Homo sapiens: one gene and its partners. The protein of the gene in region 6 purifies or fractionates together with the protein of the main gene of each other region. This does not show direct contact. Each region holds a gene or a part of one and is shown on either strand. Other genes may lie near its edges.

Evidence for each region.
Region 1: the proteins of CDK5RAP2 (region 6) and PDHX purify together in Homo sapiens (co-immunoprecipitation; one large-scale study listed by IntAct). This does not show direct contact.
Region 2: the proteins of CDK5RAP2 (region 6) and ELAVL4 purify together in Homo sapiens (co-immunoprecipitation; one large-scale study listed by IntAct). This does not show direct contact.
Region 3: the proteins of CDK5RAP2 (region 6) and CEP170 purify together in Homo sapiens (co-immunoprecipitation; 2 studies listed by IntAct). This does not show direct contact.
Region 4: the proteins of CDK5RAP2 (region 6) and PRKAR2A purify together in Homo sapiens (affinity purification with western blotting; 2 studies listed by BioGRID and IntAct, with this or other methods). This does not show direct contact.
Region 5: the proteins of CDK5RAP2 (region 6) and CEP135 purify together in Homo sapiens (co-immunoprecipitation; one large-scale study listed by IntAct). This does not show direct contact.
Region 7: the proteins of CDK5RAP2 (region 6) and WDR62 purify together in Homo sapiens (co-immunoprecipitation; one large-scale study listed by IntAct). This does not show direct contact.

Annotation. Positions count from the first base shown.
Region 1 is NC_000011.10:34,954,054-34,958,549, reverse strand, and holds part of PDHX (pyruvate dehydrogenase protein X component, mitochondrial isoform 1 precursor), read right to left. Parts: intron 1,167-4,496; coding exon 967-1,166; intron 1-966.
Region 2 is NC_000001.11:50,143,092-50,147,587, reverse strand, and holds part of ELAVL4 (ELAV-like protein 4), read right to left. Parts: intron 2,632-4,496; coding exon 2,391-2,631; intron 1-2,390. UniProt on the Homo sapiens protein: RNA-binding protein that is involved in the post-transcriptional regulation of mRNAs. Plays a role in the regulation of mRNA stability, alternative splicing and translation.
Region 3 is NC_000001.11:243,248,254-243,252,749, forward strand, and holds part of CEP170 (centrosomal protein of 170 kDa), read right to left. Parts: intron 1-4,496.
Region 4 is NC_000003.12:48,841,375-48,845,870, forward strand, and holds part of PRKAR2A (cAMP-dependent protein kinase type II-alpha regulatory subunit), read right to left. Parts: intron 1-4,496. UniProt on the Homo sapiens protein: Regulatory subunit of the cAMP-dependent protein kinases involved in cAMP signaling in cells. Type II regulatory chains mediate membrane association by binding to anchoring proteins, including the MAP2 kinase.
Region 5 is NC_000004.12:56,014,473-56,018,968, reverse strand, and holds part of CEP135 (centrosomal protein of 135 kDa), read right to left. Parts: intron 1,322-4,496; coding exon 1,112-1,321; intron 1-1,111. UniProt on the Homo sapiens protein: Centrosomal microtubule-binding protein involved in centriole biogenesis. Acts as a scaffolding protein during early centriole biogenesis.
Region 6 is NC_000009.12:120,569,723-120,574,218, forward strand, and holds part of CDK5RAP2 (CDK5 regulatory subunit-associated protein 2), read right to left. Parts: intron 2,320-4,496; coding exon 2,252-2,319; intron 1-2,251. UniProt on the Homo sapiens protein: Potential regulator of CDK5 activity via its interaction with CDK5R1. Negative regulator of centriole disengagement (licensing) which maintains centriole engagement and cohesion. Involved in regulation of mitotic spindle orientation.
Region 7 is NC_000019.10:36,102,753-36,106,604, forward strand, and holds the end of WDR62 (WD repeat-containing protein 62), read left to right. Parts: coding exon 1-99; intron 100-195; coding exon 196-322; intron 323-403; coding exon 404-455; intron 456-590; coding exon 591-1,229; intron 1,230-1,765; coding exon 1,766-1,923; intron 1,924-2,015; coding exon 2,016-2,276; 3' UTR 2,277-2,356; downstream 2,357-3,852. UniProt on the Homo sapiens protein: Required for cerebral cortical development. Plays a role in neuronal proliferation and migration.

The DNA of each region.
Region 1 (4,496 bases), on a different chromosome or scaffold from region 6:
GCAGGCGGATCATGAAGTCAGGAGTTCGAGACCAGCCTGGCCAACATGGAGAAACTCCATCTCTACCAAAAATACAAAAAAATTAGCCAGGCATGGTGGCACATGCCTGTAATTCCAGCTACTCAGGAGGCTGAGGCAGGAGAATCGCTTGAACCCAGAAGACCGAGGTTGCGGTAAGCTGAGATTGCACCATTGCACTCCAGCCTGGACAATGAGATCAAAACTCCGTCACCCACCTCCGCACGCCCCCCCCTAAAAAAAGCACTGTGGATTCTTTTCTGACAATGATAAACTAAAGGAAAAAATGTTTAAGAATGAAGAGGTCTACTTTATGAAGATCTTTTTCTCGTAAAGAAAAAGTAATGTTGTATAATTATATAGAATACTAAATAAATGAAATGTTAGAATTTACAGAGTTCTTCTATTAAAGCAATGTAAAACTAAAGTGAAATGATGTGTATTAAGTTATCTGTTTTGTTACAGAACAGACAAAATTGAGCTCTAGTCTGTGCCGGAAAGTCATAATGCAGACTAGTTTGAAAACGAATGCATGTTAAAACATGAATTCTATTTTATATCAGATAGACATTTGAGCTTGGAATTCCTGTAACAGTAATTAGAACTCCATAAATGGGAACAGAGTATCAAGTTTGGTATATTGAATACCATTTTAGACTTCTAAAACCTAATTCAACCTCAACATGGACACATACTGTTTGGTTTTCCATTGTGCAAGCAGGGCTTTTAGAGTACCTGGAACATAGCAGATATTCAGTAACTATTTATTTACTGAATGAACAATGATGGTTAAAAAAAAAAACACACACTCTAAGGTCTGAGTGTGCTGAGAACAGCAACTTCCTACGTGATGTACAACGATGTGCGAATATGATAATGATTACAATTCCATAAGAACTGCCATAACTTTTTTTTTTTACATCATCCTTTGAATAAATATATACTCACCGTAGTGTCCCGGGTATGTGTTCCTTCTTGACAGGGATGGAAATCTGTGGTTCTGGTGAGGGGCGAGGCTCTGAAGGTTTTGAAACTGGTGGTGGAGGACCTACGTCTTTGGGAATTTCAACATGTTTCCAATCTTCTCCTTCTTCTACTATCAAACCAATTAGTGAACCTAGCCGTATATTTTTACTTCCTTCTTCAACCTATATTTAAAAAAGAAGTAACTGTAGAGAAGTAAAACCCCATGACTGCATTAAGTAGTTTGTTCTTTTGTTGGGTAATTCTCCCCTTAAGATATCTTAATTTGAGCTAAAAGCTGCTTCCAAGACAGTTTGCCTCTGCCTTCCACCTGTCACCTTCTCCACTTTCTCCCACTTATGCCTTCCTTCACCATTCTCCTCTTCCCACTTGCTAATGCTACCTTCTGAAATAAAGGATAAATCTAGAATGTATCCTCTTTCTGAGAGCCTTCAAATAAACATGTAAGATCCATCATTATCATCTTCTTTTTGATGTCAATACAAATCCAAACAGGAGCCTGTGGCTACATATCTTAACCATTTGTCTTTCCCAGAGAGTTTCTATGCAATGGCTTTAGAATTCTAAAAGCTCAGAAGGGATTAACTCCCTCAACTTAGTCCAATCTACTAAAATTTACCTAATGCAAGAATCTTTTCAGTAAACTTAGTCTGAAAAGATGAACATTCTAATGTATAGATAGAACTGGTTAACTATTCCAGTTAATGTTAAATATAGTCTACTTCTTTATATTTAATTATTTCCCTGTATATCTATTTACAAAACCTGAAAAATAAAATAAAACCTCATGAGTTTTTTTATAAGTATATCAGAAACACAGTGGTGTCTCAGTTAATAAAGCATTTCTTCCACAGATAATGCCAATTAAACACTTAAATAAAATCAAAGATAATGTTTTTAAAAGTTAAGTATATTTTAAGCATTTCAGCAGCATTAATTTATAAAGAAAGGGCTAATTCTAATTTACTTACTAAAAAGAAGTCCCTAGAAAACCTTCAAATAACAATATTTTATAAGTTCACTCCTGGAAGAAAATGTCATTCCCTTAAAATCTTCTATTATTCCCTTTCAATTACTCTAAATAAGGTTCATTAGCTGTATTTAATGAACAATAGAATGATAGGCTGCAGGACGTCCACTAATACAGTAATGGTAAGGAAAAGCATAACTTCTAGAATGAGTTTGACATATCAGAGTAACACTAATTTCAATGCTTACTGGTATGTTCACTATCGTTAATAAGGCATAAGTTATAAGGGGTTAGGAAGCTAAGTTTACTAATTACTGATGAAGAAGAAAAGCAGCAATGCTTTCATGAAGCAAAATACATATATATATATATGAAATTAGTATAGAAAGCTGAATAGGAATGTTTAATGAATTACAAGCTATGGAAGAATACTAAGAAAGCCAAGAAAAATCTAGTTGCTTAGTTGTTTGCCACATACTAAAAAATTTTGCTTCTGCAGAGTTCCTTTTTCTTTACTATGTCAAAAAGATGAGTTAAGATTATTATTAGACCAATATTTTTCTTCTAAAAGTGTTTAATTACCTGCTTGTGAATTGCTAACTCAAAAATCAAAGTAAAATGACTAATTTTCTTTAAAAATGTATACAAAAAAGCACTGTTAAGTGACATGAAGTCCACTTGATGTTAATTCCTTTCAAAACTGAATCAGAAATAGGATCAATATCCAAGTACAAAGAACATCATTCAAATGTAAAGCATTAAAAAAAGTTTTGCTTTAAAAATATCAATAGATTTCTAAAATCTGAGTCAGACAACTGTACTACATCTGAAAGTGGTACCTCACCTTCTGTTTCATTTACTGTAAATCATATAAATGATTCCATATATACTCTACCAACGTAACATTGACACCTTCACAAGTAGGCAATAAACAGCATTTATCATCATTTCAATTTTTACCATTATCTAAATATCAAATAAAATTTATTTTTAACTATTCACATTTTTTTCTATTTAAAAAAGTGACACCATGAAGCATGAAACCCAAATACAATGGACAAGGACAAGTGATATACAACCATACAACTTGAATATATAACAGAAGATAAAATACAGTTGATTATAATTCCATTTAAAGTCATTAAAATCTCTATATGAATTTAAGATAATTTCTTCAACCTTTTCTATTCCTTTGGTGCAGAGATCTTTCAGAGGTGTGCTAATTTCCTGTAAGCATTTGCTTACACTGTAGTAGGCAAATACTCAAAACTGGTGTAGACTTAGTATAAATACGTAAATAATACTCTTTGCAAAACTGTTTAAAAACCAAGCAGGCCTCTGTTACTGTTCCCTTTCCTCTCTGAGCTACCTCCATGGTAGCTCATGGTACCTCCATGGATACACTCTGCCCTACCAAAGCATCTGGAGCTAAGGACACCTCAAATGCCAGAGTTTTCTTATGCACTCAGCTTACTTGACCAAAGCCCTCTCTTACTCTTCTGCCAATGATTTCTTAATATTAAATGCAGGGTTTTTACACATAGCTCTATCAACTTAGAGCTCATCGATACTGAAATATTGAATGTTGAGTCTATCATTTCAAATATTAGCCTTCCCTCCCAGTTGTGTACAGACTTCCTGAGTTTCAACGCTGGCTCCACCACTTACTAGTTATGTGACCTTAGTAAAGTTTCCTTATCTCACCATGCTTGTTTTCTGAGCTGTAAGATGCAAATAACAGTAGCTACTTCACATTGTTGTTATGAGGAATAAATGAGTTATATGTAAGGCCCTTAGAATAGTGTCTGATAGCTAGTAACTTGTTTTCATTTTCATTGTTAAAGGCATTATTATTGCTGTTGTTATTGCTGTGGTGTTTTCCTTCAAATTATGGATTTTTTAAAACAATACATTCAACATGGATCAAGATTAGACTACAGGGGACTGACCCCTTGGTATGGGTTAGAAATTCATGCTTAAAGGCTTAGCATGTGGCTGGCAGCACTAAAGGGCAAACATCAACATATACGATAATGGGTAGTAAGGTCTGTGACAAACTATTTCTTCATAATTCTCAGACAGAGGCTGAATTCTATCCCTCAAGCCCAGGTCACTAGTGTGAGGCTTCTGTACCAGAGACATTCTCACATCTTAACCAATCAATCACCTGCAAATGTGCTACAAACAGCTCACCTAATCTCATCTGTGTACACAGGGATATGAGATGCAAAACATTTACAGCAGTATGTCCAACAGAGAAATTGAGAGGGCTCATTCCATTAAAGGCACAAGTAAATATTGTCTGTTTTAATTCTGATATTAAAATCAATATATTAAGTAATTATTTAAGTACTTTTATTCTTTAAAATAGAGCAGTTTGAAAGCTACCTAGTGACTACTGACAGAGCATGTGCAGCAGTGAGTGGAGATGACCTGAGTCACGTGACTGACTTATCTGGTTCATCACTATGATTTTCCATCATGGTGTGAATCATTATACAATTTTGAACTGTTTTGATTCTTC
Region 2 (4,496 bases), on a different chromosome or scaffold from region 6:
CACCTCTTCCAGCCTGCATTGTGACCTAACCCCAAATGTTGGCCTCGGGGAGGTCCTCCGCTAGAGCAATTCCCACTCCTTCCCCATTTCCCCACAGCCCTATCTCTCCCTCCTTCTCTGACTTTTAGCATAGCCAATTAAACCTGAACAACGGGTGGATGGAGGAAATATGCTGCATCTATGGAATGGTACAGCAGGGACTAGTTTCACTGTTAATTTAAAATGCTAGAATTAATTAGGTAGTGTAAATGAAGAATTTAATAAGCACTCTTTACAACCACAAGTTTTACTTCTATTAAACACTGCTGTCAAATGAGGGCAAATATCTCTGGTCTCTCTCTATATTTCCCTGCCTCATTCCCATAAGCTCTCTACAAATAAAAATTTTTTGGGCCTGAATTTAAGAAGAATGCATAATTATAAATTTATGCCTGAATTGTATTTCTGCTTTCAACCCCATAAGCTTCTTCTTTAAGCTCAGATGCTACTGTATGTCTCTGCTTGTGCTGGAGAGGGTGCTAAACAAACCAAAGTTGACAATTTTGGTTTTGTATACCAAATTAAAGGCTGTCTTCGAAGCTGTCACTCCTATTCAAATCCACTCGGTGAACTACCAAATTAGCATTCTTTCAGTAAAGGAATCTGCTTGTTTAAACATGTGTCTTTAGAAAACAAGGAACAACACCATGAATCAGTACTTCTCAAAAATCTCGCTACAGTTCTGAAGGAATTCTGAAAAGGTGATTAATAATATTCACTAATATAGCTGGCAGAGTCTGTATTTTGAAGGTAAGGCTATACTAAAAATACATTTTCTATATAGGAGTAGGAGGAAGAATCATATGGTTAACTGGTTTTAATTTGGTTTGAATTATCATCCTATTATATAAAGATTATTCAGGAATCTAAATATTGGCTTTCTGAACGTATGGGAAATTCTGTTTAAGGATAGATGTTCCAGTGCTCTGGTACAAGATAATCAAAGCCTGGCCCTATTTGGAGAATTTGATAGATACTTTTTTTTCTGTTCTGGCCACTTTCCTTGAAGCATACTAGCTGTACTTACAATAATAGATTTATTTACTGAGGGACCACTGTGCAGTAGACATTGTGCTAGATGCAATATATCTAGTCTCTCATTTAATCCTCACAATAAGCCCTTTGAGACAAGCATTATCTTCCAGTTTTTCAAATAAGAAAATTATGTCTGGAGTGTTAGGTGACTTGTATTTTGGAAAGTAGCAGTGGTATTTAAGTTTTATGATTTTGCAAACTACTTAATTTATAAGGGGAACAGATTTACATGTGAATTATGAGAACAGAAGAATGTATATATCTACACACACACATATAGAATGTATTCTCTGATTTAAAATAAAGATGATGTATATCCCTATTTTAATGATGCAGCTTCCTTTTTAAAAAAAAAAAAACTCTAGGACAGTTGCTGATTAATTAAACTGTCTAGGGAAAGGGAAACAAAAGTCAATACTCAAAACTGACAAGTATTCAAAGTTGGATATGAATGATTTCAGGAGTGGAGTATCAGAGAGTAGCAGCTTCACTGCCATCATTATGTAGCCTAATATATTCCAAGAAAATATTCTCACTGCCAATAAGATTATAGGGAAACTTTCCCCCAAAGAATTATAGTGTCAGTGTCTGGCAAACATTTGGTTCTCAATGAACAGTTGTCAATTAGGAGAAAATCAGAACCTAAAAATCTCATGTATTGAAGTTGTATAGGGTGTTGATTCACTTTCAAGTAAAAATGCCCTCACATCTCAAAGAGTATCTTCAAAACGAACAGACAGATAAAATAAAACAAAATACCTCAAATGCAGATCTTCATTAAGCATTTCCCTCCTACTGCAGAGTAGTTGTATTCCAGAATAATCTGCTATCCTTAGGGCCTGTTTCTCCCCAGGGACAAGGGCAGTTGTGTCAACTGTCCACACATCCACAGTGGCCCCCTTTAAAACACTTGTTTCAGGCACATGGAAGAACACTGGGCACACATGAAGCAAATATTGAGAGGAGGAGAATACATGAGCAAAAACTAGTGTATAGTATAGGGAGGGCAGAGTTGTGGGACTGGAAACTATAGAACAAAGGGAAGGAATGGCTGATTAAGAATAAAAGGAGACAAAATCAAAGGATCATTTTACATGAAGATGAAGATGTACCAAAATCTTCATCTGCTCCCCAGCAGTACCAATCTACAATAAGGTCTTATGTGGTGTATGTAGTGTGAGTTTATGACTGTGTATCCATGCCATCTTGCATGCAGGGTACATGATATAGACATTCAGGTGCACCATCACACATGTGCATTTCTGCTAAGATCTGCACATCTAATGGAACAACATAGCTTCAAATCCTGTGCATACCTGTAATTTTGTCTCTCACAAGTTTGCAGGATTCTATTTCACCAATGCTCCCGAAGAGACTCCTGAATTCTTCTTGGGTCATATTCTGGGGTAAATAGTTGACGATGAGGTTGGTTTTGCTGTCATCTGTGGTTGCCCCTGTTTGCATGGGAGAAGGACAGTTTCTGTTGTTGCTGGAGGGTCCATTGCTTGTATTGGATGTCGGACCATTTGACACCTGAGGCTCCATGGTGCTAATTATCTAAATAAAAATAAAAACAATTGAAAAAGCCTTTTGAAATCTCAGACACAAAGTCTCTTTTAAAAGTTTATTAATTTTTTTGAAAAGAAAGAGAAGAAGATAAAGCAAGATGGAGCAAGAGACTGGGTTGTGAACACAGCCAATTTAGAAGCATGTTTTTAACCAAAATGTTAAACTCCTCTTTCTATTTTTAGGCCAGCCCATAGATTTTGAACACAGACTAGAATGCAGTAGGAACTCTCCCATTATTTTGTTAATGAAAAGCTAATTCCTGTTTTCATTACACAATCACTCTCAGAAATGTATACTTAAGCCACACCAAATTATAATTAAAATGTAAAGTAATAATCATGATTAAAATTATAGTTCCATTAAAGCTGAAAAAGCTAAATATAGAGGACTACACTCACAAGATCAAATACAGTACCTGTTTATTAACTATCTCATAAAATAAAATGACATTAAATTAAGTGGGGTTGTTCAATATGGGAAGGGTTTAAATTTTCACTGATGCTTAATCACTGATCAAATTTTAGATTTTACAGGTACATTCTAGGGAGCTGCAAAGTCATCTAATGTCTTTTTTTTTTTAATCTAGCCATTCTGTTATTGTTTCTCCCAGACCTCTAATAAAACAAAAAACATGGAGGCAAACTTTTCTCTAGGTCTCCACGTTAGGTCCAGCACCGCCTGAGGCTGTCCACTCACATATTACTCAAAAAGGACTTTCTCTTGATTAAAATATTTAATTAAACAAAGATTTCTGGCTGGTGTGAATGTTCCAGGTAGCACGTATGAGAATAAAGAAATGAATGAATCCCTATCCTCAGGGAGCTTATAGTCTATAGAGGACACAGACAGGTAAACAGCTGGTATAGGGCAGTGATCATGCAATACAGAAGCAATTACTTCTGCTTATAGGATAGGGAGATTTAGGGACAGTTCTGAGAAAATGCTGGAATAGGGTTTTATATGAAAAATGAGTTTAAGCTCATGAAGTCAGGTCATGAAGATGCCCTGTATGGAATGACAAACATGGAGAATTGCAAAATTGCAGAGCCAGAAGGCACATAAGGGAACAAAATCTAGCTCAACACTCACATTCGAGATGAAGCCCAGAGATGTCCAGTTACTTCTCTGTTATCATAGAAAAATGGGGGCAAAGTCCAGGCCTGCACCCGGATTTCCTGGCCCCAAACGCAGCCCATAATTCGCAACTTTCCATTTTGTCTTACACCGTCCTCTATTTGTCCATCATAAAATGGCTTCCATCTCCTCAGAAACTGATCATCAACTCCTTGGAAATGAAATCATACTCTGCCACTTACTAGCTGTGTGACCTTGGCAAGGGACTTAAATCCTAAGAGTCTTCATTTTCCTCATTTGAAAAATGGGAACAATGCCACCGTATGGCAAAGCGGTAAGAACCGATCCAGTGATATGACTTATGTAAAGCACCAGAACAGTGGTGGGCACATAACCACAATCACTGATGTTTATTAGTTACTCTGCCAATCATCCAATGTGACTTCTCTCACTGTCTCCTCACAAGAAGGCAATGAAGCATATTCTAATATTCTCTATGTCTTATAGATGAGGAAACCAAGGCATAGCAGACATCTGATAACTAGTAGCTTCCATTATTATTACCATTTGCCTGCTCAGAGGATTTAGGGGGGAAGCATTTTCATTTACTATAACATACATGTAATAAAGTGTATAAATCTTAAGGGTACAACACAAAGAATGTTTACAAAGTGAACACAATTCACAACTGGGTAATTACCTTTCAGATCACAATACAGAACATGACTGGCACCCCAAATGCCTTTCTCAGGTTCTCCATCCCTGTCATTTACCTCACC
Region 3 (4,496 bases), on a different chromosome or scaffold from region 6:
CTCCTTATCTCTAAAAATACTTCCTTTACTTGGCTTGTGGGACAACACACTCTTCAGTTTCCTCACACCCCACTGTCCACTTTTCAATCCTCCTCGATGGCGCCTTCTCTTTTGCTCAGCTTTCCATGTGGAAAGTACCAATTCTCAATTCTTGGATCTCTTCTCAGTCTAACTCCCTAGCCAAGAGATCCCTTTAAGTCTACTGGTGATGCTTAACATTTAACTATCCTCAGTCCAAACCTCTCCTCTGAATGCTTGACTTACATATCTAACTGCCTACCTGATGTGTCCACTTGGGCGTTTAACAGACACTTCAAACTTAACATATCCAAAACATTTGACTCTCTAAAGCCAGAAACTAGTAACTTTCACTATTGCCACTACTGTCGCTCTAGTCTAAGCCATTAATGTCTCTTAAACCAGATCATTCCAATCATTTCCTAGCTTATCTCATGGTTCCCAGTGTTTTAAAGAATTCCCAGAGCCATTCTTTAAAAATATAACCCAATTTTTTGGCTTTGCTCAAAATCCTCCAATGAATGCTCATAGCACTTAAAATCAATGAATAAAATCTCTATGCAACCTCATTTCCTCCTATAAGCACCTTTTCCTCACTCACCTTCAGCCACAGTGTTCTCCAAATTCACTTATCCCATTCCTGCCTCAGAACCACCGCACCTGAGTAGAATACTCTCCACTCAGATACCTACAAGATGCTTCCTTACCTAATGCAAGTTCTCTGCTAAATGTCACCTCAGAAAGAGGGATTCCCTAACCACTCTAAGATAGTTCTCAAGGTGTAGCATAGTGGATAAAGAGGCTATTTTTTTGTGTCATAGAGGGGACACAAAATATGTATTTATATTTGCTTGAGGTGAAGAAAAATTCATGGCCAGGCGTGGTGGTTCATGCCTGTAATACTAGAACTTTGGGAGGCTGAGGAAAGAGGATCACTTAAGCTCAGGAATTCAAGACCAGCCTTGGCAACATAGTGAGACCTCATCTCTACAAAAAATTAGCTGGGCATGGTGGCGCACACTTGTAGTCCCAGCTACTCAACAGGCTGAGGTGGGAGTATTGCTTAAGCCCAGCGGGTCAAGGCTGCAATGAGCTGGGATCCTGCCCCTGTACCCCATCCTGGGCGACAGAACAAGACTCTGTCTCAAAATAAATAAATAAATAAATAAATAAATAAATAAATAAAGTTCATTGAAGAATACATAAGAAATAATAAAAATAGCTACTTACTGGATTGGCAAAAGTGGTAACTCAGCAGATAAGATGTAGGGTGAAAAGGTTTTTCATATTATTTCTTTTCAAAATATTATTTGAAAACTACCTGAATGAACACTTGAAAACAAATGTAAAACAGCAGTCCTCTACCACTGTCTCTTTACCTTGATTAATTTTTCTTCATAGCATCTATCCTTACTTGACTTTACATCGTAAAAGAATTATCCATATCCTCCAGTATATTGTAAACTTCATCTAATTCCTTTACTGCTGGAGGATATAATGGTTTTCTCTTTAATTTAAAAAACAAAACAAGGCCAGGCGCCATGGCTCACACCTGTAATCCCAGCACTTTCAGAGGCCTAGGCAGTGGACCATGAGGTCAGGAGATCAAGATCATCCTGGCCAACATGGTGAAACCCTGTCTTTACTAAAATACAAAAAATTAGCCGGGCGTGCCTGTAGTCCCGGCTACTCGGGAGGCCGAGGCAGGGGAATAGCTTGAATCCAGGAGGCAGACGTTGTAGTAAGCCGAGACTGAGCCACTGCACTCCAGCCTGGCGAGAGAGCAAGACTCCGTCTCAAAAAAACAAAAACAAAAACAAACAAAAAGGCCCCAAAAACAAACAAACAAAAAAAACCCATCCGAATGGTTTTCATTATTTTTGTGTCACCTTTCCTCCCAGCATCTTTTATTTATGTAACATTCATTCTATTTATAAATGTGCATGGCTTTGTCCTTGGCTATATTAAGTATATGGCCAGGATGGAGACATAAGAGTTTGGCTTGTTGAATTTATAAATGTCAAAAAGCCAGGAAGGAAAGCTAATCCCTTGGATGACAGAATCATGATTCAAGAAGATCTCAAGTTTTAACTATAGCTACGTTCACGGAGATGAAATTTAATAGGAGGCAATGGTAAAATACTGGTTTAAAAACATCACCTGTGTGTTTATACACAATGGGAGAAATCTAGCTAAGTGTAAAAATGTTGGTTTATGTTGACTACATCAGTGGTTTCCAGACCAATTTTTCAGAAAACAAATTAAGAATCAACATAAGGCTGCCAACTTTTTATTGGTTAATCAGGAACACTAAAATAAAACAAAACCCCATGACCAACATCAAAAGAAACTTAACCTATCATTACTTAATAGGTGTTACTAACACTATCATTTAATAAAGGCCATTTATGAACATTAGAAAAGGAGAACAAAATCTCAAAAAATAGTACCTTGAATTACATAAATATAACTTGAAAAGCCATGTAACATTTCTCTCTCTCTCTCTGCTTTTTGCTTTGAATTAGCAGAGATGACTGTTGTTAAAGAGTTGATACAATTTTAGACTTTAAACACAAGTGTATGGCTTGAAATAAGGAAAGGGACAATTTCACTGCACTTTGCATTCAGACCATAACTGCAGAATTAAATATGGAAACAAGATCAGAACACAAAGAATAGCACTGACAAAACTGATTGAATCCAGCTGAGAGATGTGAGGGATGGCAAAGGAAACCATATGAAGTTGGAGGTGTCCTAACATTTAGACAAGAGAAAATCTAGCTAATATATTGAGAAAAACCTTACTTCATCTTACTCCTAAAGACTGAATTGCAACCAGTGGGAAGAAGTTATATAGTAAAAGCAGCTACTAGCTCAATTTAAGTGAGATCTTCCTATTACACTTTTTGGAAGCTAAACAGGCTTTCCTATGCCCAGGGAAGGGTTTGTGGAGAAGTTGGACCCAATAACATCTCAGAGATATTAGTAGTGGGTGATACATTGTATGAGCTGACTTCTAAAGTTCCCTTGAATTCTAAAATTTTATGAACCAGAGTAAGGAAATAAGTGGTACCCTTTAACTTACTAAAAAAGATGAGTAGAAAGAATTTTGGCTTTAGCCAAAAAGACAAAGGTTCAATTATAGGCCCTATCACTTAGGAATGTGTAACGCAGAGGCAAAGTTATTCACTAACTCTATGCTTCAAATTTTTTCAATGTGTAAAAATAATACCTTAATTTAGAAGTTTGTTGCAGAAATTAAATACACACACACCACACACACATAAACTTCCTGGCACCTAGGAAATGTTCAAAATTTGGTAGGTATTATTCAACGATTCAATAAATATTGTGTTTCAAAGGGTAATATTTTCTATATCATTTATTACTTATGGATATACTTAAAAAATGACTTGTTCTCTGCTATGTGTCATTTGTTTTTCAGACCTCAACAATGCATGCTTGGGATTCTTTTCCACTTCTATACTTTCTGCAATTCCTGTTTGTATGTAAGTAGATTTTATGAGGTTTTCTTTAACTTTGCTTTTGCTGTTTTGTTTTTCCACCTTTATTTGATATAAAAGTGGGCTTTAACAGCAACACACATTGGCTATGTCACTGGCTTTGGCTAAAACATTTCTGCTAAACTGGACAATATATCCAGTTTAATCAACCACACTACCAGACAGATGTTTTTTATCTCTCACAATGGCTAACTCACTGCTGAACACTCCTTTATGAAATTTTTGAGTAAGTAAATAAAAACCTAGGGTATCTGATTAGAAATTTTGGTTATTAATGAAATAAAGATATTTCTTCCCATCAAAAGTATCCCATTTCTTAATGAAACAGATCAACACTGAATGCTCCAGTCAATACTATCTACTCACCAAGCATTCTTCAAATGGCACGTAACTGCTCTTTTGTTATACTTCCAGAATAATTTGCAACTGTACAGATACTTTAGTTAGCAATTAAATATCAGGTTGTCTGTCAGATACTTAGTTGAAGAGTACACTGCTTAACATCCCAGTGTTTGGGACAGATAAGAAAGAAAAGTCTTTACCTATTAATTAGTATAGAAAAAATATTTTTCAGGAATACAATTTTGTGGAATAAAAAACATTTTGACAAAAAAGCTTAAGCATATACAATATTTAGTACTAGATGAGCATTATCTAATTGCAATCAGATACAATAATAAAACTAGTTCTTTTTTTCAGTAGATAAAAAGGAACAAGAAACTGATACTTGGAACAAATCAAATAAATCACGAAGCACAGAATTTTAAAAAGTACCATAACAGCATTAATATGCAGAATGTATGCTAAGGTTTACAGTATAAATTTCACTATTCTAATGTTAAAATAGGGAACAGGCAGATTATTTCCATACAAAATAATCTCAGAACACAATGAAATTTACCAGTAAAATACATTTAAAGCATGATTGAATATAATCCCACATACTGAAATTTA
Region 4 (4,496 bases), on a different chromosome or scaffold from region 6:
CTCTACTAAAAATACAAAAAATTACCCAAGTGTGGTGGCGCATGCCTGTAATCCCAGCTACTCGGAAGGCTGAGGTGGGAGAATTGCTTGAACCAGAAGGCAGAGGTTGCAATGAACCAAGATCCCGCCACTACACTCCAGCCTGGGTGACAGAACAAGACTCTGTCTCAAAAAAAAAAAAAAAAAAAAAAAAAGGTGTTTTGGTTATATACCTAGGAGTGAAATTGCTCTACCTATGATAATTCTATGTTTAACTACTTTTTGAGGAACCACCAAATTGTTTTCCACAGCAGCTGAACCATTTTACATTCCCATGAGTAATGCACAAGGGTTCCAACATCTCCACATCTTGGCTATTTTCTGTTTTTAATACCAGCCATCCTAACAGGTATGAAGTATCTCATTGTATGCAATGTATTTTTCATTTATTATTTGTAAATAGAAATCCACCTTGTAGTGATTTCTATAATTATGTAGCGCAGCCACCTGAGACACCAAAAATACTTAAATACCAATAAAATAGGGTACAAAGATTTTAAGTCAACTCAATTTTGAAAAAGGTATCAAAGATGACAAAGAATGACGATATAATACAAAAACTTGTCACTGAATTATAAATTACCTTGGACAGTATGGCCATTTTCACTATATTGATTCTTCCTATCCATGAGCATGGAATGTTCTTCCATTTGTTTGTATCCTCTTTTATTTCATTGAGCAGTGGTTTGTAGTTCTCCTTGAAGAGGTCCTTCACGTCCCTTGTAAGTTGGATTCCTAGGTATTTTATTCTCTTTGAAGCAATTGTGAATGGGAGTTCACTCATGACTTGGCTCTCTGTTTTTCTGTTATTGGTATATAAGAATGCTTGTGATTTTTGTGCATTGATTTTGTATCCTGAGACTTTGCTGAAGTTGCTTATCAGCTTAAGGAGATTTGGGGCTGAGACAATGGGGTTTTCTAGATATACAATCATGTCATCTGCAAACAGGGACAATTTGACTTCCTCTTTTCCTAACTGAATAGCCTTTATTTCCTTCTCCTGCCTAATTGCCCTGGCCACAACTTCCAACACTATGTTGAATAGGAGTGGTGAGAAAGGGCATCCCTGTCTTGTGCCAGGTTTCAAAGGGAATGCTTCCAGTTTTTGCCCATTCAGTATGATATTGGCTGTGGGTTTGTCACAGATAGCTCTTATTATTTTGAGATACATCCCATCAATACCTAATTTATTGAGCGTTTTTAGAATGAAGGGTTGTTGAATTTTGTCAAAGGCCTTTTCTGCATCTATTGAGATAATCATGTGGTTTTTGTCTTTGGTTCTGTTTATATGCTGGATTACATTTATTGATTTGCGTATATTGAACCAGCCTTGCATCCCAGGGATGAAGCCCACTTGATCATGGTGGATAAGCTTTTTGATGTGCTGCTGGATTCAGTTTGCCAGTATTTTATTGAGGATTTCTGCATCAATGTTCACCAAGGATATTGGTCTAAAACTCTCTTTTTTGGTTGTGTCTCTGCCTGGCTTTGGTATCAGGATGATGCTGGCCTCATAAAATGAGTTAGGGAGGATTCCCTCTTTTTCCATTGATTGGAATAGTTTCAGAAGGAATGGTACCAGTTCCTCCTTGTACCTCTGGTAGAATTTGGCTGTGAATCCATCTGGTCCTGGACTCTTTTTGGTTGGTAAGCTGTTGATTATTGCCACAATTTCAGATCCTGTTATTGGTCTATTCAGAGATTCAACTTCTTCCCAGTTTAGTCTTGGGAGAGTGTGTCGAGGAATTTATCCATTTCTTCTAGATTTTCTAGTTTATTTGCGTAGAGGTGTTTGTAGTATTCTCTGATGGTAGTTTGTATTTCTGTGGGATCGGTGGTGATATCCCCTTTATCATTTTTTATTGCGTCTATTTGATTCTTCTCTTTTTTTCTTTATTAGTCTTGCTAGTGGTCTATCAATTTTGTTGATCCTTTCAAAAAACCAGCTCCTGGATTCATTAATTTTTTGAAGGGTTTTTTGTGTCTCTATTTCCTTCCAAGGTAATTTATAGATTCAATGCCATCCCCATCAAGCTACCAATGACTTTCTTCACAAAATTGGAAAAAACTACTTTAAAGTTCATATGGAACCAAAAAAGAGCCCGCATCGCCAAGTCAATCCTAAGCCAAAAGAACAAAGCTGGAGGCATCATGCTACCTGACTTCAAACTATAATACAAGGCTACAGTAACCAAAACAGCATGGTACTGGTACCAAAACAGAGATATAGATCAATGGAACAGAACAGAGCCCTCAGAAATAACTCCGCATATCTACAACTATCTGATCTTTGACAAACCTGAGAAAAACAAGCAATGGGGGAAGGATTCCCTATTTAATAAATGGTGCTGGGAAAACTGGCTAGCCATATGGAGAAAGCTGAAACTGGATCCCTTCCTTACACCTTATACAAAAATTAATTCAAGATGGATTAAAGACTTAAACGTTAGACCTAAAACCATAAAAACCCTAGAAGAAAACCTAGGCATTACCATTCAGGACATAGGCATGGGCAAGGACTTCATGTCTAAAACACCAAAAGCAATGGCAACAAAAGCCAAAATTGACAAATGGGATCTAATTAAACTAAAGAGCTTCTGCACAGCAAAAGAAACTACCATCAGAGTGAACAGGCAACCTACAAAATGGGAGAAAATTTTCGCAACCTACTCATCTGACAAAGGGCGAATATCCAGAATCTACAATGAACTCAAACAAATTTACAAGAAAAAAACTAACAACCCCATCAAAAAGCGGGCAAAGGATATGAACAGACACTTCTCAAAAGAAGACATTTATGCAGCCAAAAGACAAATGAAAAAATGCTCATCATCACTGGCCATCAGAGAAATGCAAATCAAAACCACAATGAGATACCATCTCACACCAGTTAGAATGGCAATCATTAAAAAGTCTGGAAACAACAGGTGCTGGAGAGGATGTGGAGAAATAGGAACACTTTTACACTGTTGGTGGGACTGTAAACTAGTTCAACCATTGTGGAAGTCAGTGTGGCGATTCCTCAGGGATCTAGAACTAGAAATACCATTTGACCCAGCCATCCCATTACTGGGTATATACCCAAAGGACTATAAATCATGCTGCTATAAAGGCACATGCACACGTATGTTTATTGCAGCACTATTCACAATAGCAAAGACTTGGAACCAACCCAAATGTCCAACAATGATAGACTGGATTAAGAAAATGTGGCACATATACACCATGGAATACTATGCAGCCATAAAAAATGATGAGTTCATGTCCTTTGTAGGGACATGGATGAAATTGGAAACCATCATTCTCAGTAAACTATCGCAAGGACAAAAAACCAAACACCGCATGTTCTCACTCACAGATGGGAATTGAACAATGAGAACACATGGACACAGGAAGGGGAACATCACACTCTGGGGACTGTTGTGGGGTGGGGGGAGGGATAGCATTAGGAGATATACCTAATGCTAAATGACGAGTTAATGGGTGCAGCACACCAGCATGGCACATGTATACATATGTAACTAACCTGCACATTGTGCACATGTACCCTAAAACTTAAAGTATAATAAAAAAGAAAAAAAACTTGTAAACTTTTACTCATCTGAGGCTAATTTCTAAAATCCTAAAGTGTTGTGTAAATAAAAATTGTCTCAAAGCAGGTTACTGCTTTGTGATTTACAGAGATGACAGTGAAACAAACCTGAAATAAAGCTTTTAAAAACAAATTTGTCCCTGGAAGATTGTTGTCACTGTCCTCAACTTAAAGATAAGAAAATCTGAGATCAAACAGGTTTGAGAATTTGTCCAAGACCACAAAGCAAACCTGTGGCAGAGTTTAGAAAATAATTTCTGATTTCCCAAAAACCCATGATGTAATGTGCAATAAATCAAGGGAAACCCAGAAGAGCCCTTGTTACTCCTTTAGCATGAATACACTTAGGGAGATTGCCCAGTGCACTGAAGCTTGTGACCTCCCACAGCAATGACCGTTAATTAACTCCTTCCCTGCCGTGACTTGAATACTGGGCCAGACCAGATACAACTCAGAACTAGTTTTGTGTGTGTGTGATCTAATAACACTAAGATCCTAACTTGGCCTCTCAAATGGTTTCATTGTTTTGTTAAATTTTAGTTGTTCAAAAGTAGGCCAATTCTACTGTTAAATTGACAAAGCATATGTTGAAGCAACCAAGGAAACTGTAATAGCTTCTTAACACTCTTGCGTAGATCAGATGTAGAAAGTGTTATTTTGGACAGGAGCAGTAGCTCATGCCTGTAATCCTAGCACTTTGGGAGGCCAAGGCAGGAGCATTACTTGAGGCCAGGAGTTCAAGACCAGCCTGGGCAACACAGGGAGACCCCGTCTCTATAAAACACTTAAAATTAGTAAGGCATGGTGGCACATGCCCTTAGTCCCAGCTACTTGGGAGGCCCAGGTGGGAGGATACCTTGAGCTT
Region 5 (4,496 bases), on a different chromosome or scaffold from region 6:
ACTAGATGAGTGAAAATTGAAAACATCCATGTTTGAAAACAAACACTAGGTTATTTAAAGTAATGCCTCCATCTGGGAAAGGTAAATTCTAGCTAAATAGACTTGTTTAATTAAGATTTAAACACCTTGAGATTTTTATCGGGAAAAATATTCTACTTCGGAAGCACTGAACTGTTCAATCCTTCATTCAAGTCTTACTTTTTTTTTTTGAGACAAGGTCTCACTCTGTTGCCCAAGCTGGAGTGCAGTGGCACAATCTCTGCTTACTGCGGCCTCGACATCCTGGGCTCAAGTGAACCTTCCCTGCCTCAGCCTCCCGAGTAGCTGGGACTATAGGCACATGCCACATGCCTGACTAATTCTTTGTATTTTTTGTAGAGACGGGGTTTTGCCATGCTATCCAGGCTGGTTTCAAACTCCTGAGCTCAAGCAATCTGCCTGACTCGACTTCCCAAAGTGTTGGGATTACGGGTGTAAGCTATCGTACCTGGCCTCAAGTCTTACTTTTAAACAGAGAAAGAATGTATTAGGATATGCTGATTTATAATCAGAAAATTCATAATCTCCTAGATAGCCATCTATTCCAAAACATTACCCACTTTCATCACTACGTTTGCCTGAGAAATCTTGCAAAGAATCAAGCAGTCAAATCTGGTTGTCAAAATCCTGTAGTCAAAAGTAACTATTGTAGGCTGGGTGCAGTAGCTCATGCCTGTATCCCAGAACTTTGGGAGGCCAAGGCAGGCAGATCACGTGAGGTTGGGAGTTTGAGACCAGCCCGGCCAACATGGTGAAACCCCATCTCTACTAAAAATACAAAAATTAGCCAGGTGTGTTAGCAGATGCCTGCAATCCCAGTTACTCAGGATGCTGAGGCATCCTGAGATGCCTGAGGGAGAATTGGTTGAACCCAGGAGGCGGAAGTTGTGGTGAGTTGAGATCGCACCACTGAACTCCACCAGCCTAAGCGACAGAGCAAAACTCCATCACAAAAAAAAAAGTAACTACTCTAAAAGGAAACAAGTATATGCATGGTGTGGTGAATACTAAAGTAAAATAATTAGAGTAGGGCTCAATAAAACAATGTGCCAAGACAATTTATCTTTCTTACCCTCTCAAACTCAAGGTTTTTCGAATTCAATTGCTGGGTCATAATATCTTTGCCTGAATCAAGTTTAATGCAAAGTTCTCTAAGAGATGACAAGTCATTTAATACTGTTGCTTTCTCATCTTCTTGATGTCTCAGCTCTTCTTCTAATCGAGACATGGCTTTTGCCATTGATGAGATCTGAGATTCATAAGCATGATGGGCATTTATGTGCTGAAAAAAGAAAAAGAAACAAGTAAAAAGTTAAAATAACCCAATAATTTTAAGAACTTGAATTTGTACAGCCAACAATCTCACTTTAGAAAAATATGACAGCCAATTTTTGCTTATTTTAAAATACTCTCAGGAAGCTGCCTACTATTTAAAGATGACCTATTTAATGCTTAACAAAATGAATTGTGTATAATTATTAATCATGGTAACTGAGTATCTCATGTATATATTTATATATTTGGAAATGTAAAAAAGAAAGTTATTGTATCAGGGTGTTGTGAATATGAGGGATTTTTGAGGTTGCATTAAATTTTTCCTTTAAAAATTATCTTTGTTATAATAATGTCATTTCAAGAAAAAGTAATATATATACATATCACTCCTCAACTGTCTTCAGTTAAATTCTAAATTCCAAAAATGGGGTTTACTTCAAAACTATATACCTGGATAATTTAAATTTAACTTAAATAAATAGTAAACAACTTTAATATTTTAATAACTGAAATAATGAAAAAAATTTCAAATAATGATAAATTTTTTTTTCTAGAAGAATCCACAGTTGAAATTTCTCACAATTTGAATTATGAGTAATAAATACAAACTGATATAAACTCTACTTCTAGGTTTTGGGGAGAATTCTGCATTGAAAAATAAAATTATTGCAAGAGGCTATTAAAACGGCTGGGTGGCTCACGTCTGCAACCCCAACACTCTGGGAGGCTGAGGTGGGAGGATCACTTGAGCCCAGGAGTCTGAGACCAGTCCGGGAAACATAGTGAGAACCTGTCTCTACCAAAAAATACAAAAATTAGCTGTGTGGTGGCACATGCCTATAGTCCTTGCTACTTGGGAGGCTGAGGCGGGAGATCACCTGAGCCCACGAGTTCAAGGCTGCAGTGAACTGTGGTTAAGCCATTCCACTCCAGCCTGGCCGATGGTGCAAGACCCTGACTCTTAAAAAAAAAACTCCACAAATCCACATTGAAAATCTAATATTGTGCTGTGAAGATTTAATCAATTTCAAAAATTGCAGAAAAGTATTTAGATTTTTTAGTGCATTAATAAAAGCTCCCCTAAACAAATATAATACTTTAGTATTGTATTGTGAAATTGGCTTATACTTTAGTAACAGCCAATTTCATATACCACATACGAACATGAACAATAATAAAGAACAAAATAATTGAAGATTAGTTGAGAACAGTTGCTGAAAAACTCTTTTGAAGGTTGAAAGGCACTCCTTTAATTAGTTATTATACCCTTCTTAACAGAAAAACTTTTAGAGATAGTGTATTAGTTCCCTAGGGCTGCCATAACCAACTACCACAAATTAGGTGTTTTAAAAAAACAAAAATTCATCCTTTCACAGTTCTGGAGGCTGGAAGTCCAAAATGTGGGTGTTAGCAGGGCTGGTTCTTCCAGAGCTTCTATGGGAGAATCTGTCCCATGCCTCTCTCCTAGCTTCTGGTGGATGCTGCCAGTGCTTGGTGTTCACTCACTTGCAGACATATCACTCCAATCTCTGCCTCCATCTTCACACAGCCTTCTCTGTACGTACTGTATCTAAATTTCCCTCATCTTTGAAGGACACCCATCATTCACTAGGTTAGGGCCTGCCTTAATCCAGCACAACCTCATCTTAACTTGTTCACATTTGCAAAAACCCTGTTTCCAAATAAGGTCATGTTGACAGATACTGGGGATTAGGATTTCAACGTATCTTTCTGGTGGACACAATTCTCCTACCCTCTGATCCCCCAAAATTCATGTCCTTCCCATATACAAAACACATTCACTCCATCCTAACATTCTAGCATCAACTCTAAACCCAAAATCTCATCTAAGCATCATCTGAATCACATATGGGTGAGACTCTGAATATGGACCACACTGGGACAAAATTCTCCTCCATCTACAGACCTATGACACTGGAAAACAAGTAAACTGCTTCCAAAATAAAATGGTGGGATAGGCATACCATAGAAGTCCCACTGTAAAAGGGAGAAAATAAAAGGAATAAAGGAGTTACTAGTCCAAAGTAAGTCTGCAACCAAGCAGGCTGAATCCATTAGATTTCAAAACCCAAAAATAATCATTTGTGCCTTCATTCTCTGGTGCTCTGTTCTCTGAGCCAGCCAGGGGGGCCCCACCCTGTGTCCCACAGGGGCAGTGGCCTTGCCCTCTGAAACCAAGCAGACAGACAGTAGCTCCATCATCTGGACCTGTGATGTCTGGGCTTGTGGTGGTAGCCACAGCCCCACCAGCCTCTGAGTTGCCCTTGGTGGCCTTGCTGGTCTCTGAGCTACCCTTAAGAGTCATTCTGTCCTTTTCTTGAAGGTGAACTTGCAGCCAACTAGCTCTGTTGGTCTGTCTTCTGCTAGTAGGATCCCAGAAGTCCAACAACCTTCCTTCTTTTCATCCCATTTCTGTTCCTTTCAGTCAAAGCTGGAAGTGATTCTGCTGAGATGATTGATTGGATTCATGAGTCACATATCTAATCTCTTCACCAAGAGGTTTTCTAGCCATACTCTGGAGCACACTATCTGGATAGGCTAAGAATTTTCCAAAATCATCAAGTCCTGGTTTATTTTTTTTTCCTTTTTTTTGAGACAAGGTCTTACTTTGTCACCCAGGCTGGAGTGCAGTGGCATGATCTCGGCTCACTGCAGCCTTGACCTCCTGGGCTCAGCCCCCCAAGTAGCTGGGACTACAGCCACGTGCCACCATGTTTGGCTAATTATTTGTATTTTTTGTAGAGATGGGGTTTTGCCATGTTGTCCAGGCTGGTCTTGAACTCCTGAGCGTAGTTTTTTGGTGGACACAGGTGGATTGCTTGAGCGATCTGCCTGCCCTGACCTTCCAAAGTACTAGGATTACAGGTGTCAGCTACCACACCTGGCTTCATGTCTTGCTTTCTTTTTTGCTTTTCAGTTCCTTGCTCCATTTCTCTCTTTCCTCTCATATTTTACTGTAAGTAACAAGGAGAAACCAGGATGTCTCTTCCGCACTTTGCTTGGAAATCTCCTCAGCTAAATATCCGAGTTCATCCCTTACAAATTCTACTTTTCTCCCAACAGTAGACCGTAACTTAGCCAAGTTCTCTGTCACTTTATAACAAGTAACATCTTTTCTCAACTCTGTCTGAGACATCACCAGAGGAAACATTCATATTTCT
Region 6 (4,496 bases):
CAGCTAAGGAGTAAGATGATTCGACTTAGGTTTCTACAGGCTCCCTCTGGCTGCCTTTCTGAGAACAGACTGTAAGGGGCTTAGGAGAGAAACAGGGAAACCAGTTAGGAGAATATTGGGATAATCTAGGCCGCAGATCATGGTGGGTTGGAGTAGGATGGAAGGAGTATAGGTGGGTGAGAACTAGTCTGATTCCGATACTTTAAAAGTAGCCAACAGGAATAAATGAAATGAGATGAGATGAAGTGAAATACACAATGTTGAGAGAGGAAAGTACACCTTAGTCAGCCTGGGGAGAGCCAAAAAGGGTGGTGAGCTTTGAGCTGAGTCTTAAAGAGGGAGCAAGGAGGCACCGGGCAGATGAGAAACAAAAGGAAGGAGAGACAGCCCAGGCAAAAGCACAGAGGTGGGAGTGGGCATGGTGTTCGGAAACCACTTAGCAGAAAAGAGGCTAAGGAGTGGGCAGGGCAGACTGTGAAGGGCACGCTAGTTTGTTTTCCTGTTCCTCAAACGGGCCATGCCCTCACCTGTGTCTGGGATGCTCATCCCCTCCTTTTTCCTTACCTACATCTGACTTATTCAGGTCTCCGCTCCAATATCAATTTCTTGGGAAACTCTAGCCTGACCCACCTCCACACCAGAGGAAATCTCCCTTTAATCCCCTCTCACAGCACTTGATACATCTTTGCTCCTGACACTGACCATACAAATTCTCATAAGGGTTTGTCTGTCTTCTCAGCTTAACAGTAACCACATTTGAGGTTGAATTTTAGCACTGAGCCCAGAGTCTGGCATGAAGCAAATGTATACTATCGGCTAAATTAAGAAATAGGCTGGCCAGGCACAGTGGCTCATGCCTGTAAACCCAGCACTTTGGGAGGCTGCGGCGGGTGGATCACCTGAGGTCAGAAGTTCGAGACCAGCCTGGCCAACATGGTGAACTCTGTCTCTACTAAAAATACAAAAATTAGCTGGGTGTGGTGGCACGTGCCTGTAATCCCAGCTACTCGGGAGGCTGAGGCAGAAGAATTGCTTGAACCCACGAGGCGGAGGTTGCAGTGAGCCGAGATCACACCACTGCACTCCAGCCTGGGCAACAGAGCGAGACTCCATCTCAAATCAGACTTGTTGGATTTTGCATTTAAAGTAAAAGTTGCCAATGAGTGCAGTGGCTCATGCCTGTAATCCCAGCACTTCGGGAAGCTGAGGCAGGTGGATCACTTGAGTCCAGGAATTCGAGACCAGACTGGGCAACATGGCAAAACCGTCCTGCAAAAAATACAAAAATTAGCCAGGTGTCGTGGCACACGCCTGTAGTCCCAGATACTAGGGAGACTGAGATGGAGAATTGCTTGAGTCCAAGAGGTCAAGGCTGCAGTGTGCGTGATCGCACCTCTGCACTCCCAGCCTGGGTGACAGGACAAGACCATGTCTCAAAAAAATAAAAAGTAAAAATAAAGTAAAAGTTAATAGGTTCCTCAGGAAAACATGAAGGTGCCCTGTAAGTTAAGGGATTTTCCAGAAATAAACCGTGGGACTCTTTTCCTGTCTGCTCCAAAATCTCCCTCCTCTTGCACATATCTCAGCACTGTGGAGAAGAGAAAAAAAAGAACAAGTCAAAATATCTTAGAGATATTTTGCAAAAACTAGCACTACCCACAGAGACGCTTAAGCATTCACTTTTTTCAGAAATAAAAATTATGAAGAATGCTTAGCTAGACCCAAACTGCAAAGTCTCCTCATAATCCAGCTTAAACACAGTACGCTACTTATTTACTCAGAGCCGTCTCCTGTGGTCTAACCAGCTATTTGTCTCCAAAGGGCAGGCCCGTGTAGGAATGCGGGGCCTCAGCCGGCAAACAGGATCCAGCAGCCTGCCAGGAAGGCCTTGGCACGCTACAGTCCAGATGGCAGCTCTCCTGGGCCTCCAGCCACTGGCCTAGCTGCCAATTCAATGTCCAGCCTCCGTGCAGTTGTTCAGTTCAGCAAACGCTCACTGAATCCCTATAGCTTTAGTAGCAACAAATGAAACTCATGAAGTATGGCCAAAAGGACAACAATTCCTCTAGTCCAGTGTTTATGAAAGGAGGTGGAAAGCAAATCAATACATACAAAAAATACTGAGCACCTACGGTGTGCCAGTTCAGGGAAGCCTCTGGGCCCCAGAGATATGAAAGCTCAAGATGCTCACAGTCCAATGTCTACTTTCCTTGTTCTTTACTCAAGAGAATGCCTGGTTTTGTGTACTTACGACCATTTCCCAACCCAGCATTGGGGTTGATGCCATCCAGGTCATCTGGTACACTGGGAACAAGGCCACTAGGAGAGAACACATGAGATAAGAGATGAGCTAATGTTTGAACAACAGAGACTGTTAAGACGGTCTGGACTGCACATGACAATCATCCCATGGCCAGGAGGGATGCACACAGCTGGGCTACCTATGTGGCATGAAGCACAGAGGTTAAGAACTCAGGCTTTGGGGCTGAGTTCCAGCTCCAACACTTGATAGCTGAGTGACCTTCAGTAACATCATTCATTCAGTCATACATCAAATGTTCTGTGTGCCAAATATGTGCTAGTGGCAGAGGCACTGTGACAAGTACAAGATACTTATGTTTCTGAGTCTCACCCTCTTAATCTGGTACATGAGGATACCATGCCCTCCCTGTAAAAATTAAATTCGTTCATGTATATAAACACAAAGCACATAGTAAGTATTCAGTAAACGGCAACTATTGTTGTTGTTACTATTATCATTATGACTACTAATATGCCTATCACCACCTCTGGGAATCAGACACCAATTTAGATGTTTTAAGAATGTCAAACAATGCAAAATTCACTGATCCAAGAAGTTGTCTTGGTTGAATTACATAAATAAATTCAGTGAGGATCTGGAGACACTGACAGAAAACTAACCCATAATAGGAGGTGTGGTGTGACACAAAAGACACTACCCTGATCTATTCTAAGCTCTGCCATGTATCTCTCTGAGCCTCACTTTCTTTAGCTGTAAAATGAGTACAGCAGCTACCTCACAGAGTAACTGGCAATTAAACAAGATATTGCAAGGTACCTTGTGGGTACTCCACAAATGGGAGCAAAATATCATGTCGCCTTGAAACCTACAGTGCTTTACAATTTATAAAAGATTTACCATCATTAGAATTGCCTAATTCCCTGAGGGTGCACACATTTTTCAAAGGAAGGCCCCAAGGCCCAGACAATTTTACTGTCCTAGCCAGGGTCACATGGCGGTTCTGTGGAGAGCCAGGTCCAGAAGCCAGGTCTTTTATGTCCAACTCCCACGAATACTTCCCTATCCCACACTGTAAAGTAGGAGTTGATGGAAACAGCTTGACTTCTTGGCAATTTGCTCTTTCCATGCCTCTAAATCCAAATTCATTGTGCTCCTAGGATAATTTTGCCTGACCACCAAACTTTGGAGTTGGAATGTACCTTCAAGATCAAAAACAGGCAAAAAATTGGAAATATCATAAAATTCCAACATTAAGAAAATGATCACAAAAAAATGTGTCCGGGCTGGGTGCAGTGACTCATGCCTATAATCCCAGTATTTTGGGAGGCCAAGGCTGGTGCATCACTTGAGATCAGGAGTTCGAGACCAGCCTGGCCAACATGGTAAAACCCCATCTCTAATAAAAATACAAAAATTAGCCGGGCATTGTGGCAGGTGCCTGTAGTCCTAGCTACTTGAGAGGCTGAGGCAGGAGAATCACTTGAACCCAGGAGGCAGAGGTTGAAGTGAGCTGAGATCATGCCACTGCACTCAAGCCTGGGTGATAGAGTGAGACTCCATCTCAAAAAAAAAAAAAATTTAAAAAAAAAAGTGTCCCCTGTAAAGGTAAATGAAAAAACGTAAACAGAATATGTCCTCAATTATGAAAACAAATATATACAGTACATAAATACTGAAGTCACCTCAAGTCCATTTTGGAAATAGGTGGGCTACAGATATATAACAAGACAAAGGAAATATACTGAAATATTAAAAATCATCATTAGTAGGGAAATGAGAGGTTTTCTTCCTTTTTAATGTTATATAATTCTCAATTTCCTCCAATAAACATCACTAAAAGGACAAAGTCAATTTTCTAAACTGAATTTTAAAAACTAAAATCAAGTTCAACCATCACCTTTTGCAGATGGTGGTCCAGAAGCCCAAGGTCACATACACCAGGTTATTGGCCAAGCTCAGCCTAAGGTCTGGTCCTGCATTCTCAATCTGGGGTTCTCTCCGGGTACCAGAGCCATTACATTAACTCCCACTGGCTAAAACTGCCCATGAATAACTCAAGCCAAGATCAATCACAGCTGAAAAGTACCTAGCAAACAAAGCCAAAGATTCTGGTCTTAGACAAGCTTCCTACAGGCAAACACTGAAGTTTGAAAAATGACATCTGACATCCCAACTCTTAGACAAAACCACTATGTAATGCAGAAATTTTTGCTTGGATCCTGCCAAATTTCCA
Region 7 (3,852 bases), on a different chromosome or scaffold from region 6:
TCTGGGAGACGTGGAGGCCTCTGAAGCTGAAGACCACTTCTTCAACCCACGCCTGAGTATCTCCACGCAGTTCCTCTCAAGCCTCCAGAAGGCATCCAGGTAGAAGCTGGCCAAGCACTGCCCACCCTCTGGCTCCTCAACAGTGCCCCAGGGCAGGCTGAATGAGAATCATCCCCCCTGCTCTCCTCCCCACAGGTTCACCCATACCTTCCCTCCCCGGGCAACCCAGTGCCTTGTGAAGTCTCCAGAGGTCAAGCTCATGGACCGAGGCGGAAGCCAGCCCAGAGCAGGTACTGGCTACGCCTCCCCAGACAGGACCCACGTGAGTATTGGGCCCACCTCCGTCAGGGCACGGGGCTGGGAACCCTGAGGCCTTGTCCTCACCTCAGAGCTGTGCCTGCAGGTCCTCGCTGCAGGGAAGGCTGAAGAGACCCTGGAGGCCTGGCGCCCACCACGTGAGTGCCCCAGTCCCAGACGGACAGTCCTGGGTTTCTCGGCGAGTGGCCGGATGTCCAGCCTAGCTGTGGGGCGTGGGGGCCCTAGCCATCAGTTCTGTGTGGTGGAGTCAGTGCCATCTGCTTCCGTTACAGCTCCCTGCCTTACGAGCCTGGCGTCCTGTGTCCCTGCTTCCTCCGTGCTGCCCACAGACAGGAATCTCCCAACGCCCACATCTGCACCCACCCCAGGCCTGGCTCAGGGTGTCCATGCCCCCTCCACCTGTTCCTACATGGAGGCCACTGCCAGCTCCCGTGCCAGGATATCACGCAGCATCTCCCTCGGTGACAGTGAGGGCCCTATCGTGGCCACACTGGCCCAGCCCCTCCGTAGGCCATCGTCCGTTGGGGAGCTGGCCTCCTTGGGCCAGGAGCTTCAGGCCATCACCACCGCGACAACACCCAGTTTGGACAGTGAGGGCCAAGAGCCTGCCCTGCGTTCCTGGGGCAACCACGAGGCCCGGGCCAACCTGAGACTGACCCTGTCAAGTGCCTGTGATGGGCTCCTGCAGCCCCCCGTGGATACCCAGCCTGGCGTCACCGTCCCTGCAGTGAGCTTCCCAGCCCCTAGCCCTGTGGAAGAGAGCGCCCTGAGGCTCCACGGCTCTGCCTTTCGCCCAAGTCTCCCAGCTCCTGAGTCCCCTGGCCTTCCTGCCCACCCCAGTAACCCCCAGCTTCCAGAGGCCCGGCCTGGCATCCCTGGCGGCACTGCCTCCCTCCTGGAGCCCACCTCCGGTGAGTACAGCCCTGGAGCAAGGACTGTCCCCTAAGCTCATCCTGTGTGCTAGTTGGCTCAGCTCCAAAGATGGATACTTGACCTGGCCACAGGGACTGTGCCATTCATTCATTCGTGCATTAACTTAAATATTTAATGAGCATTACATGTTGGGCTTTGTGCTAAACCCTGGGACATGGGACATGGTGGTAAACAACACAGAGAACTGACAGCTTCAATGGGGACAATGCCCAGACTAAACCTTTAAGGAACCCGTCATATGTATCACGAAGTGACACATGCTTAGGAGGGACAGAGGAGGGCGAGGGAGTGCAGGGTGGGGACAGGGGTTGGGATTACAAACCAGAAGATAAGAAGAGGCTTCAGGGAGGAGGCTGCATTGGAGCAGAGACCTGTAGGAGTGAAGGGGAGGGAGCCTTGGGGACCCAGAGAAGTGTTCCAGACAGAAGTACAGCATGGAGTCCACCCAGTCGCTCTGGCCGCTCACACCAATGGAATGCAGCTCATCTTGCTCATTCCCTTCTCTCTACCCCAGGTGCACTTGGTCTGTTACAGGGCAGCCCTGCCCGCTGGAGTGAGCCCTGGGTGCCGGTTGAAGCCCTGCCCCCATCTCCCCTTGAGCTGAGCAGGGTGGGGAACATCTTGCACAGGCTGCAGACCACCTTCCAAGAAGCCCTCGACCTTTACCGTGTGGTGAGCTAAGCCCCAGAGTTGGGAAAGGGTTGAGGGGTCTCTTGAGACCGCCCGGCCTTGGTGGCCCCTGACAAGGCTGGCATCCCTTGCAGTTGGTCTCCAGTGGCCAGGTGGACACCGGGCAGCAGCAGGCACGGACTGAGCTGGTCTCCACCTTCCTGTGGATCCACAGCCAGCTGGAGGCTGAATGCCTGGTGGGGACTAGTGTGGCCCCAGCCCAGGCTCTGCCCAGCCCAGGACCCCCGTCCCCACCGACGCTGTACCCCCTGGCCAGCCCAGACCTGCAGGCCCTGCTGGAACACTACTCGGAGCTGCTGGTGCAGGCCGTGCGGAGGAAGGCACGGGGGCACTGAGGGCGCAGCCCCTCCACCGCAGCCCTGCTGCTTCTGAGGACTTAGGTATTTTAAGCGAATAAACTGACAGCTTTGAGGAATGGTTCCTGGTGTCTGTTTGGGCCTATCCACAAAGCCCTCTTCAAGTGGAAGTGGGGAGGGAGGGTAGAAGGTGATGCCCAGAGGACTCGTGTCTGTCAGTGGAGAGCATGGGACCAGCGCTCCCAAGAAGTTCAGGAACTGCAGCCATGACCTCAGGGCCAGTCCTCCCACACTGCCCACAGAGCTGCCACAGACCAGTGTGAGGTGCTTACCCAGTGGGGCCCATTTGTGCCCCAGGGAGGAGCCAGACCCTCTTACCTGCCCCCTGCCAGTGCCTGAGAACTCACTGGGGCTGCTGTGATCACCATGTGCCTACCTTGCCCAGCAGTCCACGCTTTGCCATATCATGGCTCAGGGCCTCTGGGCCAAGGCCACACTAGATCCCACAAAGTCCACGGTGGTGGTGTCCCCATCTGCAACAGGGGAAACTGAGGACCCATGAACAGGCTTGCCCAAGCTGGGTATGGTGGCCTGCACCTATAATCCCGGCTACTCAGGAGGCTGAGGTGGGAGGATCGCTTGAGGCCAGGAGTTTGAGACCAGCCTGGGCAACTTGGTGAAACCCCATCTCTTTATTTCATGTATTTATTTATTTATTTTTGTTTTTGAGATGGAATCTTGCTGTGTCATCCAGGCTAGAGTGCAGTGGTGCGATCTTGGCTCACTGCAACCTCCGCCTCCCGGGTTCAAGCGATTCTCCTGCCTCAGCCTCCCGAGTAGCTGGGATTACAGGCACCCACCACCATACTCAGCTGATTTTTGTATTTTTAGTAGAGACGGGGTTTTGCCATGTTGGCCAGGCTGGTCTCAAACTCCTGACCTTGGGAGATCCGCCCACCTCGGCCTCCCAAAGTGCTGGGATTACAGGCATGAGCCACCGCACCTGGCCAAAACCCCGTCTCTTTAAATAAAACAAAATAAAACAAGAAACCCAGGCAGGCTTGCCCACTGTATGATCCTGGCAGCAGGCCCAGGCCACGAGCAGCTGGGACCAATAACTGCTTCCCCTTCAGAAGTTCTACATTCCACGAGCTCCCAGCACTGCTACCAGCTCCCCCAGACAGCAGGCATCTGGCCACATGGGGTGTCTGCTAAAAAAGCCACTCTTGGCTGGGGTGTGGTGGTGCACACCTGTAGTCCCAGCTACTCAGGAGGTTGAGGCAGGAGAATCGCTCAAACCCAGGAGGCAGAGGTTTCAGTGAGCTGAGATCACACCATCATTGTACTTCAGCCTGGGTGACACAGCAAGTCTCAAAAAAAAAAAAAAAAAAAATCCTGCCAGTTCCCACCCAGGTGCCGGGCACTGTAGCAGAAGGAACATCAGGCAACGCACCTGCCCTCATGGCCACTCACCTTCTATACAGTCAAACAGATGCAGGAATTAGAGCTCTGTATAATTCTAGATAGGTTGGGGAGATCCATTGCTGGTGAAGGGTCAGGGAAGGCCTTTCGAGGTGACATTTGGGCTGAAGCTTGATAGAGGACATCTCAGGAA